2 separate regions of the Homo sapiens genome follow, and region 1 is linked to region 2. A link means that fine-mapping ties the variant in region 2 to the expression of a gene that starts in the linked region. Tissue or cell type: fibroblasts. Region 2 holds a variant in brackets; the other region holds the start of a gene. All regions are shown on one strand. Distances are between the middles of the regions.

The links. PIP is the estimated chance that this variant, and not a neighbour inherited with it, causes the effect.
Region 1: PLEKHA4 starts here. The variant in region 2 is fine-mapped to the expression of PLEKHA4 in fibroblasts (GTEx, PIP 0.98).

What each region holds. Positions count from the first base shown.
Region 1 is chr19:48,863,835-48,871,911 of GRCh38, reverse strand. PLEKHA4 (pleckstrin homology domain containing A4) reads left to right here and starts at 3,295. Exons shown (of 20, transcript NM_020904.3): 1 at 3,295-3,829; 2 at 4,286-4,375; 3 at 6,302-6,409. The coding sequence starts at 4,292. RefSeq lists an enhancer at 1-546.
Region 2 is chr19:49,451,064-49,459,129 of GRCh38, reverse strand. PIH1D1 (PIH1 domain containing 1) reads left to right here and starts at 7,316. Exons shown (of 9, transcript NM_017916.3): 1 at 7,316-7,645. The coding sequence starts at 7,556. ALDH16A1 (aldehyde dehydrogenase 16 family member A1) reads right to left here and starts at 5,905. Exons shown (of 17, transcript NM_153329.4): 1 at 5,709-5,905; 2 at 542-644; 3 at 44-170. The coding sequence starts at 5,798. RefSeq lists enhancers at 4,353-5,312, 7,046-7,095, 7,106-7,385, 7,010-7,688. The variant A/G (reference allele first, on the strand shown) is at 4,781.

The DNA.
Region 1 (8,077 bases), 590 kb after region 2:
CTCCCGACGTCAGGGGATCCTCCCGCCTTGGCCTCCCAAAGTGCTGGGATTGCAGGCATGTGCCGCCACGCCCGGCTAATTTTGTATTTGTTTAGTAGAGACGTAGTTTCTCCATGTTGGTCAGGCTGGTCTGGAACTCCCGACGTCAGGGGATCCTCCCGCCTTGGCCTCCCAAAGTGCTGGGATTACAGGCGTGAGTCACCGCGCCCGGCCTATTTATTTATTTATTTATTCATTATTTATTTTTCTGAGACGGGATTTCACCATGTTTGCTAGGCTGGTCTCGAACTCCTGACCTCAGGTGTTCTGCCTGCCTTGGCCTCCCAAAGTGCTGGGATTGCAGGCGTGAGCCACCACTCCAGGCCTATTTATTTATTTGTTATTTTTTATTTTTTTATTTTTTTTTGAGATGGAGTCTCGCTCTGTCACCGAGGCTGGAGTGCAATGGCGTGATCTCGGCTCACTGCAACCTCCATCTTCCGGGTTCAAGCGATTCTCCCTCTTCAGCCTCCGAGTAGCTGGGATTACAGGCACGCACTACCACACTCAGCTAATTTTTTGTATTTTTAGTAGAGACAGTGTTTCGCCATGTTGCCCAGGCTGTTCTCGAACTCCTGAGCTCAGGCAGTCTGCCTGCCTCGGCTTCCCAAAGTGTTAGGATTATAGGCGTGAGCTACTGCACCCAGCCTATTTATTTTTTGAGTAGGCGTCTCACTCTGTCGCCCAGGCTGGAGTTCAGTGGCGCCATCTCGGTTCACTGCAACCTCCACCTCCTGGGTTCCAGCGATTCTCCTGCCTGAGCCTCTGGAGTAGCTGGGATTACAGGCATGTGCCACAATGCCTGGGTAATTTTTGTATTTTTAGTAGAGACAGTGTTTCGCCATGTTGACCAGGCAGGTCTTTTTTTTTTTTTTTTTTTTTGAGACGGAGTCTTGCTCTGTCGCCCAGGCTGGAGTGCAGTGGCACGATCTTGGCTCACTGCAAGCTCCTCCTCCCTGGTTCTCGCCATTCTCCTGCCTCAGCCTCCCTAGTAGCTGGGACTACAGGTGCCCACCACCACGCCCGGCTAATTTTTTTTGTATTCTTAGTAGAGACGGGGTTTTTCACCGTGTTAACCAGGATGGTCTCGATCTCCTGACCTTGTGATCCACCCGCCTCGGCCTCCCAAAGTGCTGGGATTACAGGTGTGAGCCACCGCACCCGGCCGACCAGGCTGGTCTTGAACTCCTGACCTCAGGTGATCTGCCCGCCTTGGCTTCCCAAAGTGCTGGAATTACAGTTGTGATCCACTGTGCCTGGCCTCCTACCCCAATTTAGCCCACAGGCCCCAGCCTAGAGTCTCCCATTTTCTTTTTTTTTTCTTTTCTTTCTTTTTTCTTTTTCTTTCTTTTTTTTTTTTTTTTTTTGAGACGGTGTCTCACTCTGTCACCCAGGCTGGAGTGCAATGGCATGATCTTGGCTCACTGCAACCTCCGCCTCCCGGGTTCAAGCAATTCTCCTGCCTCAGCCTCCTGAGTAGTTGGGAGTACAGGAGCTTGCCACCACGCCTGGCTAGAGTCTCCTATTTTCACATGTGGTTGGTTTCCTCCCCGAGTGCGAGGGTGTCATTGTTCCCATTTCACAGATGGGGAAACAGGCTTGGAAATGAAGCCACTTGACCAAGATAGTCACAGCAGGGTCCAGATTCCTTGCAAATGAGAATGAGGATGTAAGCACTATGAGATCAGGCACTTTGCTGGGCTCAATGCTTTTCAAAAAAAAGTAATTAGGCTGAGCGCGGTGGCTCACGCCTGTAATCCTAGCACTTTGGGACGCTGAGGCAGGTGGATCATGAGGTCAGGAGATCAAGACCATCCTGGCTAACACGGTGAAACCCCGCCTCCACTAAAAATACAAAATAAATTAGCCGGGCGTGGTGGTGGGCACCTGTAGTCCCAGCTACTCGGGAGGCTGAGGCAGGAGAATGGCGTGAACCTGGGAGGCAGAGCTTGCAGTGAGCTGAGATCGTGCCACTGTACTCCAGCCTGGGCGACAGAGCGAGACTCCGTCTCAAAAAAATAATAATAATAATTAATTTAGGCCGGGTGCAGTGGCATGTGCCTGTAGTTCCAGCTACTCAGGAGGCTGAGTCAGGAGAATCGCTTGAACCCGGGAGGCGGAGGTTGCAGTGAGCCGAGATCACGCCACTGCACTCCAGCCTGGCGACAGAGCAAAACACCGCCTCAAAAAAAAAAAAAAAAGAAATTCATTTTCTAAATAGAGACAAGGTCTCGCTATGATGCCCAGGCTGGTGTTGAACTCCTGGTCTCAAGCGATCCTCCTGCCTTGGCCTCCCAAAGTGCTGGGATTACAGGCGTGAGCCATTGCACCCAGCCAGGGCTCACTGCTTTCTTCTCAGTGGCTGCAACAGACAGTGCCTGCACACAGTAGGTGCTCAACAGGTGCATGGTGAATGGCAGTTAAACCGAAAGCTCAGATTCCTTCCCGGTCACAGGCACAAGGCTCCACTCCTGGGTGTCATCTGCTTCAGACTTAGGCAGTAGCTCTGCCCCCACAAGCCGCGATTCTGCCTGGGTGGCACTCTTTGTGCGGGTGGGGGCGCTTCTGCTACAAGTTCCAGGCCCTGGGTGACAGTTCCAGCCCCCCGCTCTCCTCCCCTGCCTACGGATGCATAATCTTGTTCCTCAAAATATACCAAGGAATCATGTCTCTCTCCTGAGGGAGTTGTCCTCAGTCTAGAAGAGAATTCTCACCTGGATCTGAGGTGGAGGTTTGGAACTCTCCATTTCACCCTGCCCTACTGGGACCATCCCCTTTTCTCCCTAGGGGACCTGGACAAACCGTCCCTGGCCCCTTCCAAGCACAGCCATGTTTCCAGACCCCCAGCTCTTTCACGACTCAGGAGTCCTGATCCTAGCTCAGACCTTCTCGGGCACCCAGGAGTCTGGATCCCTAACCCATTCCCTCCAGGGCTTTGGAAATTTGAGTCCCCACCCCTTGCAGGACACAAGCCTCCTCCGTTTAGGACACCAGTGGCTCAGGCCCCCAACCACAGCAGCAAACCCACGGGGGCCCTGGAGTGCAGGCCTCAAGTCCAACTCTCCAAACACTGAGAAGTCCCAACCTTGGTCCTTAGGGGACCTGGGAATTGGGGGGCCCAAGCCCCTCCCTTCAGCTATGGGGGCAGCTGAGCCAGAGGTCAGGCTGTAGTGGGGAGGCCAGAAGGGGCGGGGACAGCCGGGATTGGGAGGGGAGAACAGCAGCGTGGGCGGCTGGCAGAGGCAGGGAAAGACCAGCAGAGAGGAAAGAGAAACTGGGAGAGGGAGGAAGGGAGAAAGTGAGAAGGGAAATCGGAAAGAGAAAAGGGAGGAAACGGCAGAGCCAGAGAGAAAGAGGAAGAGACTGAGTGTGAAGGAGAGAGGACACAGGGGATGACTGAGAGACAGAGAGAGAGAGAGAGAGAGAATGAGACAGAGACTTAAGGAAGAGACCCTGTGAGTCTGACAATAAAAGATTTGGACAGAAACAGAAAGATTGGAGAGAGAGAGAGAGGGAGAGAATGAGTGAGAGAGAGACTGGAAGAGACAGAGATCAGAGGGAGACACAGAAAGTGAGAGTGGGGAGAGAGGTAGTGTAAAAGGAAGAGAGAGAGAGAGAGACCGTAAGAGACAGGAGACAAAGAGACAAAAAGTGTGAGTGAGCAGGTGAGGAGAGAGATTGAGAACTATGAGAGACAGCAGCTAAGAGACAAAGGAGGCGGGAGACTGCCTAGGTGCCGCAGCACCCACACCGTCCTCTTGCCCCCCCGTCACTGGGACCCCAGAGCTGGGTAAGTTCCCTGGCTGGGCTGGGAGGGGCTCTCTGGGTTCACATTCCTGGTGCCGCAGGGCTTGGCTTGGGGAGTTGGCAGGGGTGGTTTGGGGGTGCATGTGGGAGGGCGGGAGACAGGTAGCCTGGGGCAGCCGGAAGGAGGCAGGGAATGGGGAGTCCCTAAGCACAGAGAGGGTCAAATTCCTGGCCTGAGTGCAGTGGGCAGGAATAAAGAAGCCCCTATTCTCTGGCCTGGGCTGCAGACAGCTGCCCCCTCCCGCAGCTGCCAGGGCCGCCTACCTCTCTTGGCACCACTCTTGGTATGTGGTCACGGGCCATGGCCTCCCCCAGCCCCCCAAGTCCCGAAACAACAGGCTCTTTCTCTGCAGCCTCCTCCGACCTCCAAGCCCCTGACCCCATCTCTGTCTCACACCCGTCACTGCAGAGACACAGCCCCTTTCTTTCTCTCCCCCAGCCCTTGATGGAGGGGAGCCGACCTCGCAGCAGCCTGAGCCTGGCCAGCAGCGCCTCCACCATCTCCTCGCTCAGCAGCCTGAGCCCCAAGGTTTGAGCTTCCTGGCGGGGATGGGGAGGAAGGTGGGGCTCTGGGCCGCCCATCCTTCTGTTTCCCCAAGGACTCTGGTTGTTAAGGACAAAGATCCTTAGCAACGGGGTCTGCCAGACATAGTAAGGTCCCAAATTGCCTACACACCGCAGCTAGGAATTCAGAGGCACTCCCAGCTCTGTCCCCACCCTTTGTATTTTCCTAATTCTAAACCAGAGTAACAACCTCCCTTGACCCTGGTTGCTAAGATAAAGCCGCTCCCCAGCCATGAGGCCCCTCGAGTTCTGAGAAGTAGTGGCTGCTCTTGATTAGTGCCAGAACTTGCTGTCCTATCTCTCGCCATCCAATCTACCCACTAATGAAATCCTATAAGGAGAGACCCTTCTCTGACAATAAGACCCAAGGGGCCTCCAGATACTTGCATCCCAAATCGGCATCCCAGCCAAAAGCTTAGGGAGACACTCATTTCTTTTTCCTCCTGCCGTTCCACACATATTGTTTCTCAAGTTCAGAGCCCAGAGATCTGATCTCAGCCTTGGTCAGTACCACCGCTTCCAAGGAAGGGCATATTGTCGGGACCTGGCTAAGGATGCCTGAGATATCTGTGGGCATCAGGAGATGAGGCTCCATCCGGGCAGGATGGAGGGATTTGAGGCTTCCTCTCCTTGTACTTGGTTGCTAAGGGGTGTGACCGCAGGGCACCAGGGCATCCTTTGATTCACTGGAGACTCAGCGTGAGAGTTCCCCCTGATTATGGGGCCCTCCCAGCCCATAGTCCCAGTTCAGATCCCAAAGGACCTACTACAGCTCTGGCTCTGGTGGCCAAGGGCATCTGCTTCTTGGCAGTGGATGCTTGATCCCCAAATTGCTTCCCTACAGCCTCTTCCTTGCCTCTGAACACCTCCCTCTGCCCATCAAAAAAAGAGTCTCGGCCCGGCGCAGTGGCTCACGCCTATAATCCCAGCACTTTAAGAGGCTGAGGCGGGTGGATCACCTGAGGTCAGGAGTTCAAGAGCAGCCTGACTGACATGGCGAAACCGCGTCTCTGCTAAAAATACAAAAATTAGCCAGGCGTGGTGGCACGTGCCTGCAATCTCAGCTACTCAGGAGGCTGAGGCAGGAGAATCACTTGAACCCGAGAGGCAGGGGTTGCAGTGAGCCAAGATGGTGCCAGTGTGCTCCAGCCTGGGGGACAGAGCGAGACTCTGTCTCAAAAGAAAAAGAAAAAAAGAGTCTCTCCCAGCCTGGGCAACAAAGTGAGACCCCCGTCCCCTACAAAAAGTAAAAAAATTAGCTGGGCATGGTGGGACATGCCTGTGGTCCCAGCTACATGGGAGGCTGAGGCTGGAGGATCACCTGAGTCCAGGAGGTAAAGGCTGCAGTGTTTAGGCTACTGCACTCCAAAGAGCCTGTCAAAAAAAAAAGAGTCTCTTAACTCTGCAATAAGAACACCTCCCAATTCTGATCTCCAACTTCAGCCCCCACCTTGACCCTTTTCTTTCTTTCTTTTTTTTTTTTTCTTTGAGACGGAGTCTCACTCTGTCTCCCGGGCTGGAGTGCAGTGGTGCGATCTCGGCTCACTGCAAGCTCCTCCTCCCGGGTTCTCGCCATTCTCCTGCCTCAGCCTCCCGAGTAGCTGGGACTACAGGCGCCCGCCACCACGCCCGGCTAATTTTTTGTATTTTTAGTAGAGACGGGGTTTCACCGTGTTAGCCAGGATGGTCTCGATCTCCTGACCTCGTGATCCACCCGTCTCAGCCTCCGAAAGTGCTGGGATTACAGGTGTGAGCCACTGCGCCCGGCTGGTCCTTGACCCATTTCTCAGGGCAGCCAAGCGAGAGCCTACGGTTGCCTGTGTCCACCCTCACCCCCTCCCAGGACCATCCTAGGCTCTCCCTGTTCACTTCTGTCCCCTTCTCTCCTCAGAAGCCCACCCGGGCAGTAAACAAGATCCACGCCTTTGGGAAGAGAGGCAATGCGCTCAGGAGGGATCCCAACCTTCCCGTGCACATCCGAGGCTGGCTTCATAAGCAGGTGGGGTCAGTAGGAGAAGGAAAAGGACACTGAAGTCTGTGCCCCGGCTGTCCTCTGTCTCTCTCCTTGCAAGTCCCCAAATAGGCTTTCTTTTTCTTGCTATCACTGCCCCTCCCCTTAGTCCGTCATTGTTTGTTTGTTTGTTTATTTATTTATTTTTAAGACAGAGTCTCTTTCTGTCGCCCAGGCTGGAGGGCAGTGGTATGATCTCGGCTCAATGCAACCTCTGGCCTCCAGTTCAAGCAATTCTCGTGCCTCAGCCTCCCGAGTAGCTGGGCTTACAGGCATGCACCATCATGCCTAGCTAATATTTGTATTTTTAGTAGAGATGGGGTTTTATCATGTTGGCCAGGGCGGTCTGAAACTCCCGACCTCAAGTGATCCACCCGCCTCGGCTCCCTAAAATGCTGGGATTACAGGCGTGAGCCACCGTGCCTGGCCCATTCATTCATTCTTTCTTGACTACTTCTTGAACACTTACAGTGTTCCCAATCCCAGGGCACACACCATGCAAATAACACAAAAGTATTTATATTACATTCCAGATTGGGTGGAGCATGGGTGGATAATAAATTAGTAAATAAATAAATGGACTTGGTCATTTCAGATCGCAGGATGGGCTATGAAGAAGTAACATAGGGTCCAGGTTCAGTGGTGTAACCCCAGCATTTTGGGAGGCCAAGACGGGAAGATCGCTTGAGCTTAGGAATTCTAGACCAGCCTGGGCAACATGAAGAAACCTCATCTCAACAACAAATACACACACACACAAAACCTAGCTGAGCGTGGTGGTGTGCGCCTATAGTCCCAGCTACTCGGGAGGCTAAGGCAGGAGGATTGCTGAAGCCCAGGAGGCTGAGGCTGCAGTGAACTGTGTTCATGTCACTGCACACCAGCCTGGGTGACAGAGTGAGACCCTGTCTCAAAAACAAAAACAAAAAAACGGAATATGATGTGCTTGAACGTGGCTGAGAGAGGAGAACTTCAATTTGACATTTGGTCAGGGAAAATTATCTCTGAGGTGACATTTGAGCTGGCTGAGCATAGTGGGTCATGCCGGTAATTCAAACGCTTTGGGAGGCTGAGGCGGGCGGATCACCTGAGGTCAGGAGTTCAAGACCAGCCTGGTCAACATGGCGAAACCCTGGCTCTACTAAAAAATACAAAAATTAGCCGGGCCAGCTTGGGGGTGCCTGTAATCCCAACTACTTGGGAGGCTGAGACAAGGAAAATTTGAATCTGGGAGGTGGAGGTTGCAGTGAGCCGAGGTTGCGCCATTGCACTCCAGCCTGGATGATGGAGTGAGACTCCATGTCAAAAAAAAAAAAAAGACCTGGAGGCAGATCGCATCCAAAAGGAAAAGGTCTGCAGCAGGCAAAACCTTGGTGTCAAGTGAGGCCAGGGGAAGAAGCCAGGAGGAGCAGCAGAGCAGTGGTTCTCAAAGTGTGGTCCCAGACCAGCAGCATCAGCGTCATCTGGGGACTTGCTAGAAAGGCAAATGATGAGGTACCATCATAGATTTGCCAAATCAGGAACTCTGGGGATGGGGCCCCAGAATCTGTGTTTTAACACACCTTCCTGGTGATTCTTATGCACCTTCAAACTCAAAACTCTCTGCAAAGCAGTACATGGGCTGGGCACGATGGCTGACGCCTGTAATCCCAGCAC
Region 2 (8,066 bases):
TGGGGTTCCCCGCCTCCCGGGGTCCACACCTCAGCTGCATCACCTGGTCAGGTGCTGGGCCCGGACGACGCCGGGGTGCGCACTCCAGCCCTTAAATGCCATCCTGGCTGCCTCCACGGCTGCAGCCACATCCTCGGCCTGTGCCTGCAGGCAACTGGCCAAGTTCTCTCCTGGGGAGAAAAGTGGGGGGACTCAGATGGGAGGAGTAGCCCATGTCATATCTGGAGGGGGCTGAGATTTTCGGAGCCTGGATCAGCCCAAGAGTGTAAAGCTGGTCCCCATTCTCTGCTGGGTCACGGCTATGATCACCTCCAGGGCAAGGAAGCTATTTTAACAGACAGCAGTCTCACAAAGCCTCCACAGAGACCCGGAACCATAATTAGGGTGACTGGTTTCAGAAGGAACCAGACATCGCAGCCCATCTCCCACCACCAGCTGTTTCCTGCCCTCAGGGCCCTAGGCAAGGGGAATGGGTGTTGGTGGGTAGGGCTAGAGGGCACAGATACCTCCCTTCCACTAATGACTGGGGGACATCTCGTACCTGTGATGGGATCCTGGCAAGGCACTGAATTTCTGTGTTCAGGCTTTAACCACTTCCCATTCACATAGTGGCCCAAGCACCGGTCCTGGGTGTCCAGCCAGGCCTGGGGGAGGTAGAGACAGTTTGGAAAGGGGTTCGGGAGGAGCTGGGGCAGTTCAACCCCTACCCAGAATCCTCTAGGAGGGGACGTCTGTCTCCCTCTGCCCCATCAGCTAATTCTTTTCCTCCTATTGCTTTAAAAAAAAAGTTTGTGGTAAAATAGAGCATTTCAAAGTGTATAGTTCAGCAGTTTAGTGGCATTCTGTGCATTTACAGTGTTGTGTAACCATCACCACTCTAGTTCTAGAACATTTTTTCATTTTTTTTTTTTGAGACTGAGTCTTGCTCTGTCACCCAGGCTGGAGTGCAGTGGCATGATCTCAGCTCACTGCAAGCTCCGCCTCCTGGGTTCACGCTATTCTCCCGCCTCAATCTCCTGAGTAGCTGGGACTACAGGCGCCCGCCACCACATGCGGCTAGTTTTGTTTTTGTATTTTTAGTAGAGACGGGGTTTCACCATGTTGGTCAGGCTGGTCTTGAACTCCTGACCTCAAGTGATCTGCACGCCTTGGCCTCCCAAAGTGCTGGGATTATGGATGTGTCAACATCTTTAATTCATTCAATTAGGGTCTCAACTGAGTCCTTGGGCTGGTGCCACAACAGTGGCACCTATTTGGAGTCCACTTTGGGAGGCCGAGGTGGTCTGAGCCTAGGCATTCAAGACCAGCCTGGGCAACATGGTGAAAGCTCATCTCTACAAAAAATACAAAAAGTTAGCCGGGTGTGGTGGTGAGTGCCTGTAGTCCCAGCTACCTGGGAGTCTGAGGTGGGAGGATCACTTGAGCCCAGGAGGTAGAGGCTGTAGTAAGCCAAGATCACGCCACTGCACTCCAGCCTGAGTAACAGAGCAAGGCTCTGTCTCAAAGAAAAAAAATTTTTTTACCACATCTCACTCACCACATCTCCTCCATATTTCTTTCTTTCTTTTTTTTTTTTTTGTTTGAGACAGAGTCTTGCTCTGTCACCCAGGCTGGAGTGCAGTGGCGCGATCTCTGCTCACTGCAAGGTCCGCCTCCTGGATTCACGCCATTCTCCTGCCTCAGGCTCCCGAGTAGCTGGGACTACATGCGCCTGCCACCACGCCTGGCTAATTTTTTTGTATTTTTAGTAGAGATGGGGTTTCACTGTGTTAGCCAGGATGGTCTTGATCTCCTGACCTCGTGATCCGCCCGCCTCGGCCTCCCAAAGTGCTGAGATTACAGGCGTGAGCCACTGCGCCCGGACTTCTCCTCCATATTTCTTTCTCATCCTGGTCACGTCTTCCCTGATGCTAAATCCAAAGCACACTGCTCACTTGCTCCTTCTACAGACTCCCCTAGCATCTCTGATGTCACATATTCCTGATTTTTCTCTTACTGGCCCTTCTTTCTTTTTTTTTTTTGAGATGGAGTCTTGCTCTTGTCTCCCAGGCTGGAGTGCAATGGTGCGATCTCAGCTCACTGCAACCTCCGCCTCCTGGGTTCACGTGATTCTCCTACCTCAGCCTCCCAAGTAGCTGGGATTACAGGCGGCCGCCACCATGCCCAGCTAATTTATATATTTCTAGTAGAGATGGGTTTTTACCATGTTGGCCAGGCTGGTCTCGAACTCCTGGCCTCAGGTGATCCACTCGCCTCGGCCTCCCAAAGTGCTGGGATTACAAGCATGAGCCACTGTGCCTGGCTTCTCCTTTCTCTTTAAAGCAAAAAAGTTACTTAGAAGTTCCAAACTCAAACGCCCACAGGGAGAGAGACATCTGTGAGAAAGTCAGGGATATTTGAACATGAACTGGGCATCAGATGACATTAAAGAATGATTGTTGGCCGGGCATGGTAGCTCACATCTGTAATCCCTGCACTTTCCCACGCTGAGACGGGAGGATTGCTTGAGCTGAGGAGTTTGAGACTAGTCTGGACCTACACAGCAAGACCCCATCTCTACAAAAATAAAAGTAAAAAATTTGCCAGTCATGATGATGCACACTTGTAGTCTCAGCTAGTCAGGAGGCTGGGGTGGGAGGATTGCTTGGGTCCAGGAGTTTCAGGCTGCAGTGAGCTATGAACGCTACTGAATGCTAGCCTGGGCGACAGAGTAAGATCCTGTCTCAAACAAACAAACAAAAAACAAAAAGAATGACTTAATGTTAAGTGTGGTAACAGACCATGGTAGTTTTGTAACAAAATGAGCCCTTATCTGTTAGAAGAAAGGATTCAAATATTTATAGGAAAATACTGTGACATCCAGGATTTGTTTAAATTACTCCAAAGAAAATACAGAAGGAAACAGCGCTGGGATAAATGTTGATGATGGTTGAGGCACAGTGATGGGTAAACAGGAGTTCAAAATAAATGCTAATTATTCTGTGCAAGTTGGAAAGCTTCCCCCCAAAAGAAAAACAAAATTCCAAAAGAATGTCCAGAGGGTTCCAGGAGGCCTGAGAAGAGGGCCTGGATGAGAAGAGGAGCTTAACGATTCATGGAAAAGACAGGAGCTATTGGTCCCAGATGACTTTTGTCAGGGAAGTTGAGCCAAATGTTGACACATTTTGGAATTTTATTTTCAAGAGGACCTCCCGGATGTTTACATGGAATCAATTGTCCAGCATTTCACATAAAAAAAAAATAAAGTTCACGCCAAAGAAAACATGTTTGTTGGTTGAGTCTGGCCCAGAGACTGTACGGTTGAGAACTTTGCTGGTGTAGGCAAGACCACGGGTCTGAAATGCAAGGACTCAAGTCCAAGTCTCAACTTCACTTTTTATGTTTTATTTTTATATTAATAGAGATAGGGCCTCACCATGTTGCCCAGGCTGGTCTCAAACTCCTAGGTGCGAGTGATCCTCCTGCCTCGGTCTCCCAAACTGCTGGGATTACAGGTGTGAGCCACTTGCCTGGCCTCAACTTCTTTTTTTTTCAGGGGGGACAGGGTCTTATTCTGTCACCCAGGCTGGAGTTCAGTGGTATGATCACTGCACCTCCCAGGCTCAGGTGATCCTCCCACCTCAGCCTCCCGGGTAGCTGGGACTACAGGTGTGTGCTGCCATCCTCGGCTAATCTTTTGTTTTCTGTTTCCTTTTTTTTTTTTTTTTTTTTTTGAGATGGAGTTTTGCTCTTGTTGCCCAGGCTGGAGTGCAGTGGCGTGGTCTCGGCTCACTGCAATCTCCACCTCCTGGGTTCAAGCGATTCTCCTGCCCCAGCCTCCCAAGTAGCTGGGATTACAGGTGCCTGCCACCACGCCCAGCTAATTTTTTGTATTTTTAGTAGAGATGGGTTTCACCATCTTGGCCAGGCTGGTCTCGATCTCCTGACCTCATGATCCGCCCGCCTCGGCCTCCCAAAGCGCTGGGATTACAGGTGTGAACCACTGCGCCCAGCCATTTTTGTATTTTTTTTGGAGACAGCGTCTTGCTCCGTTGCCCAGGCTGGAGTGCAGTGGTGCAATCTCAGCTTACTGCAACCTCTGCCTCCTGGATTCAAGCAATTCTCCCACCTCAGCCTCCCAAGTAGCTAGGATTACAGGCAAACACCACCACGCTCAGGTAATTTTTGTATTTTAGTAGAGATGGGGTTTCACCATGTTGGCCAGGCTGGTCTCGAACTCCTGACCTCAGGTGATCCGCCCACCTAGGACTCCCAAAGTGCTGGGATTACAAGTCTGAGCCACCACGCCTGGCCCAATGTTTTGTATTTTAGTAGAGACGAGGTTTCACTATGTTGCCCAGGCTGGTCTCGAATTCCTGAGCTCAGGCGATCTGCCCGTCTTGGCCTCCCCAAGTTCTAGGCTGTGCCAGGGTTCTGATCCAGTTCCTTCCACTTGGATCATTGCTCTGGCCTCCTGCCCTCCCCCTCAAAGAAGCCTAAGCTCCTTTCGCCTGGGTGCTGGGGGACCCTGGGGGATCATGAGAGCCCCGTGAAGGAATTCTGAGAGTGCCTGGGGAAACGACAGAAAGTTTGAGGTGCCCTACTCATTTGCAGGAACCCCACGAGGGTTCTGGGGGCCTCTGAGGGGTCATGGGAGTCCTAGGGAGGTTCTGAGGACCCCCAGGGGATCATGGGACCCTCACGAGGACTTCAGGGGTTCCTGAACAATCATGGGAACCCTATGGGACATTCTGAGAGCTAGAGAGATCATAGGAGCCCCGTGAGGGTATTGTGAGGGGCC[A/G]TAAGTAATTACAGGAAGTCCTGATGTGGCTGGGTGCAGTAGCTCACGCCTGTAATCCCAGCACTTTGGGAAGTCGAGGTGGGTGGATCACTTGAGGCCAGGAGTTCGAGACCAGCCTGGCCAACATGCTGAAACCTTGTCTCTAGAAAAAGTACAAATATTAGCTGAGAGTGGTGGCGCGCGTCTCTGGTCCCAGTTACTTGGGGGGCTGAGGTGAGAGGATGGCTTGAGCCCAGGAGGTTGAGGCTGCAGTGGTGTGATAGCGCCAGTGCACTTCAGTTTGGGCGACAGAGTGAGACCCTGGCTCAAAAAAAAAAACAAAAAAAAAACCCAACCCAAACCGGAAGTCCTGATGTATTCTAGGCTCCTGAGAGTTCCGATGAGGTCACATGAACCCCACGAGTATTGAGGGGTCCTATGGGATCACGGGGGCTCCATGGAAGTTCTGAAGGTCTCTGGGTAATCAAAGGGATGAAGGGAGTCCCTCAGGAGGTCTGGGGTGCTCTGGAGGCCCATGGAAGCCATAGGATGTTTTGAAGAGTCGTGGAAAGACAATGGGGGTTGTGGGTCACTGGAGCCTCACAGGAATCCTAAGGGGTCTGGTGGGTGGCGTCAGGTTCTGAGGGGACCCTGAGGAATCACGAGAGCGTCTAGAGGAGTTCAGGAAAACCGCGGAAACACTACGAGGAGTTCAGGATCAAGGGGCAAGAGAACCAGTGGGGAAGACCGGAACAGACTAAAAGGCTGCCACCGCCAAGGCTCAAGGGAGCGTCCTACAGGGCGCGATCCTATTGGGCGGCGGGAATCACGGGGACTAAGAGAGGCGGAGCGGCTGAGCTACCGCAGTGGATGACGGGACTCCCCGCGAAAAACCGGGCGCCCAGGCCTGGGGAACGCAGCGAGCAGCGCCGGCCGGGCAGACTCTCACCAGTGCGCATGCGTGGCTCTCCGGCACCGGTCCGTACTCCAGCGAGGTGAAGATCTCGCGGGCGCGGGGCCCTGCACGCGTCGCAGCCATCGCCTACCCCGAACGCTTTCCGCGAAGACTGCGGGGCGCTCTGTGTTAAGGGGAACCTTGAGGTCCGAAGAGCGACACCTCCGGTTCCAGCCCAAAGGGGCGGGGCTAATGGGAATGGGGTGGGGCTACAAGATACAGAGAGCAGCCACGCCCACACTTTTTCCTTAGGACCCGATGGCCCCGCCTACGTCCCCCACGGGGAAGCGTATTTAGGAGCATGCGCACTGCTTAAAACGGGGAGGAAGGGGAGACGGCGATGTGGGTACTTTGCGAATAGTTAGGAGGGCTCCGGATTTATGAGGATCGGCGTGGCCGGGCACGATGGCTCTTGGCTGTAATCCCAGCACTTCGGGAGGCCGAGGCGGGCGGATCACCTAAGGTCGGGAGTTCGAGACCAGCCTGACCAATTTGGTGAAACCCCGTCTCTACTAAAAATACAAGCATTAGCCGAGCTGTGGTGGTGCGCGCCTGTAATCTCAGCTACTCAAGAGGCTGAGGCGGGAGAATCACTTGAACCCAGAAGGTGTACGTTTCAGTGAGCCGAGATCGCGCCACTGCACTCCAGCCTGGGTGGCAAAGGGAGACTGTGTCTAAAAAAAAAATAGTAATAAAAAAAAAGGGTCGTCCTATTGATGCGTCTTCCCAGTGCCTTGTTTTATAGTAGCAGGAAGTGCAGGTTTTGTTTTACCTTTTATTTTCTTGAGACAGGGTCTCCCTCTGTCGCCCAGGGCTGGAGTGCAGTGGTCCGATCACGGCTTACTGTCGCCTCGACTTTTCAGGTTTAAACATTACTCCTGCGTCAGCCTGCACAGTAGCTGGGACTACAGGCAGGTGCCATCAAGCCTGGCTAATTTTTTTTTTTTTTTTTTTTTTGGTAGAGACAGGATCTTGCTATGTTGCTCAGGCTGGTCTCGAACTCCTGGGCTCAAGCGATCCTCCTACCTCGGCCTCCCAGCCTCAAAGTGCAGCTTTTCTAATTATATTGACTAGAGGTCTAGATCTAGATCTAGACCTGGCGGGTCTAGATCTGGACGTATTAGGATCTAGAGCTGGCAGGAAGTGATAATTCAAAGATAAAAAGGGTACCTTTTAGGATGGACATTGAGATTAAGGTTTGGAAAATGCAACCTTCACTGCAAAGTAAGGGGGCCAGTTTTGGTTGTGGAAAGAGTGGAAGTCTGGCGCTTTTTTTTTTTTTTTAAGAGATGGGGTGTGGGACGTTATCTCATTGTATTGCCCAAGCTGGTTTCGAACTCCTGGCCTCAAGCGATCCTCTTGCCCTGGCCTTCCAAAGTGCTGGGACTACCGGTAGGAGCCACAGCGCCCAGCCGGAAGTGTGGCTTTCATAGATACAGGAAGTGTGGCACTCAGGGATCCGCCTTGGGGTTTATTTTTGATTGATGCGAGGGGCGTGGCTTGTCGATAACGCGATACCAGCTTGTGAATGAACACTGGGGTACTCGGAAGTGTGGCATACTCCAGTCCTGTGTTTACCGATAGACCGGAAGTGTGGCTTCGTTTACAGTTCGGCACGTAGGACGGAGGGTAGTGCGTCTAGAGACACATATTCCCCACGGATTTGACGATGGTGTTCGGTCTTGAATGGAAATGTAGTCTTAGGCCAGTCTTAGGTTTTTGAACAGGATAGTAGGTATCCGGAGTCGATTGAGGGCCAGAGCAGGCACTGGGGTTCGGATCCTGGGCAAAGTTTCCCACGTTGAGGGTCTCGAGGACGCCTAGATCTCTTTCCCAGGGCCATGGCGAACCCGAAGCTGCTGGGAATGGGGCTAAGCGAGGCGGAGGCGATCGGTGCTGATTCGGCGCGATTTGAGGAGCTGCTGCTGCAGGTGCAGTGACCGGACCCCTGGATCCTTGAGTATTCGGGGATTTTGGCGGGGTGCTCAAAGATGGGACTGCAGTTCCCAGAATGCACTAAGGCGGGAACCAGGCCTCGGGGAATTGAGGTTAATGGGCTTCAAGTTTGCTAAGAAATGGGAGTGGGGGGCCGGGCGCGGTGGCTCACACCTGTAATCCCACCACTTTGGGAGGCCGAGGCGGGCGGATCACGAGGTCAGGAGATCGAGACCATCCTGGCTAACACGGTGAAACCCCGTCTCTACTAAAAATACAAAAAATTAGCCGGGCGTGGTGGCGGGCACCTGTAGTCCTAGCTACTGGAGAGGCTGAGGCAGGAGAATGGCGTGAACCCGGGAGGCGAAGCTTGCAATGAGCCGAGACCTCGGCACTGCACTCCAGCCTGGGCGACAG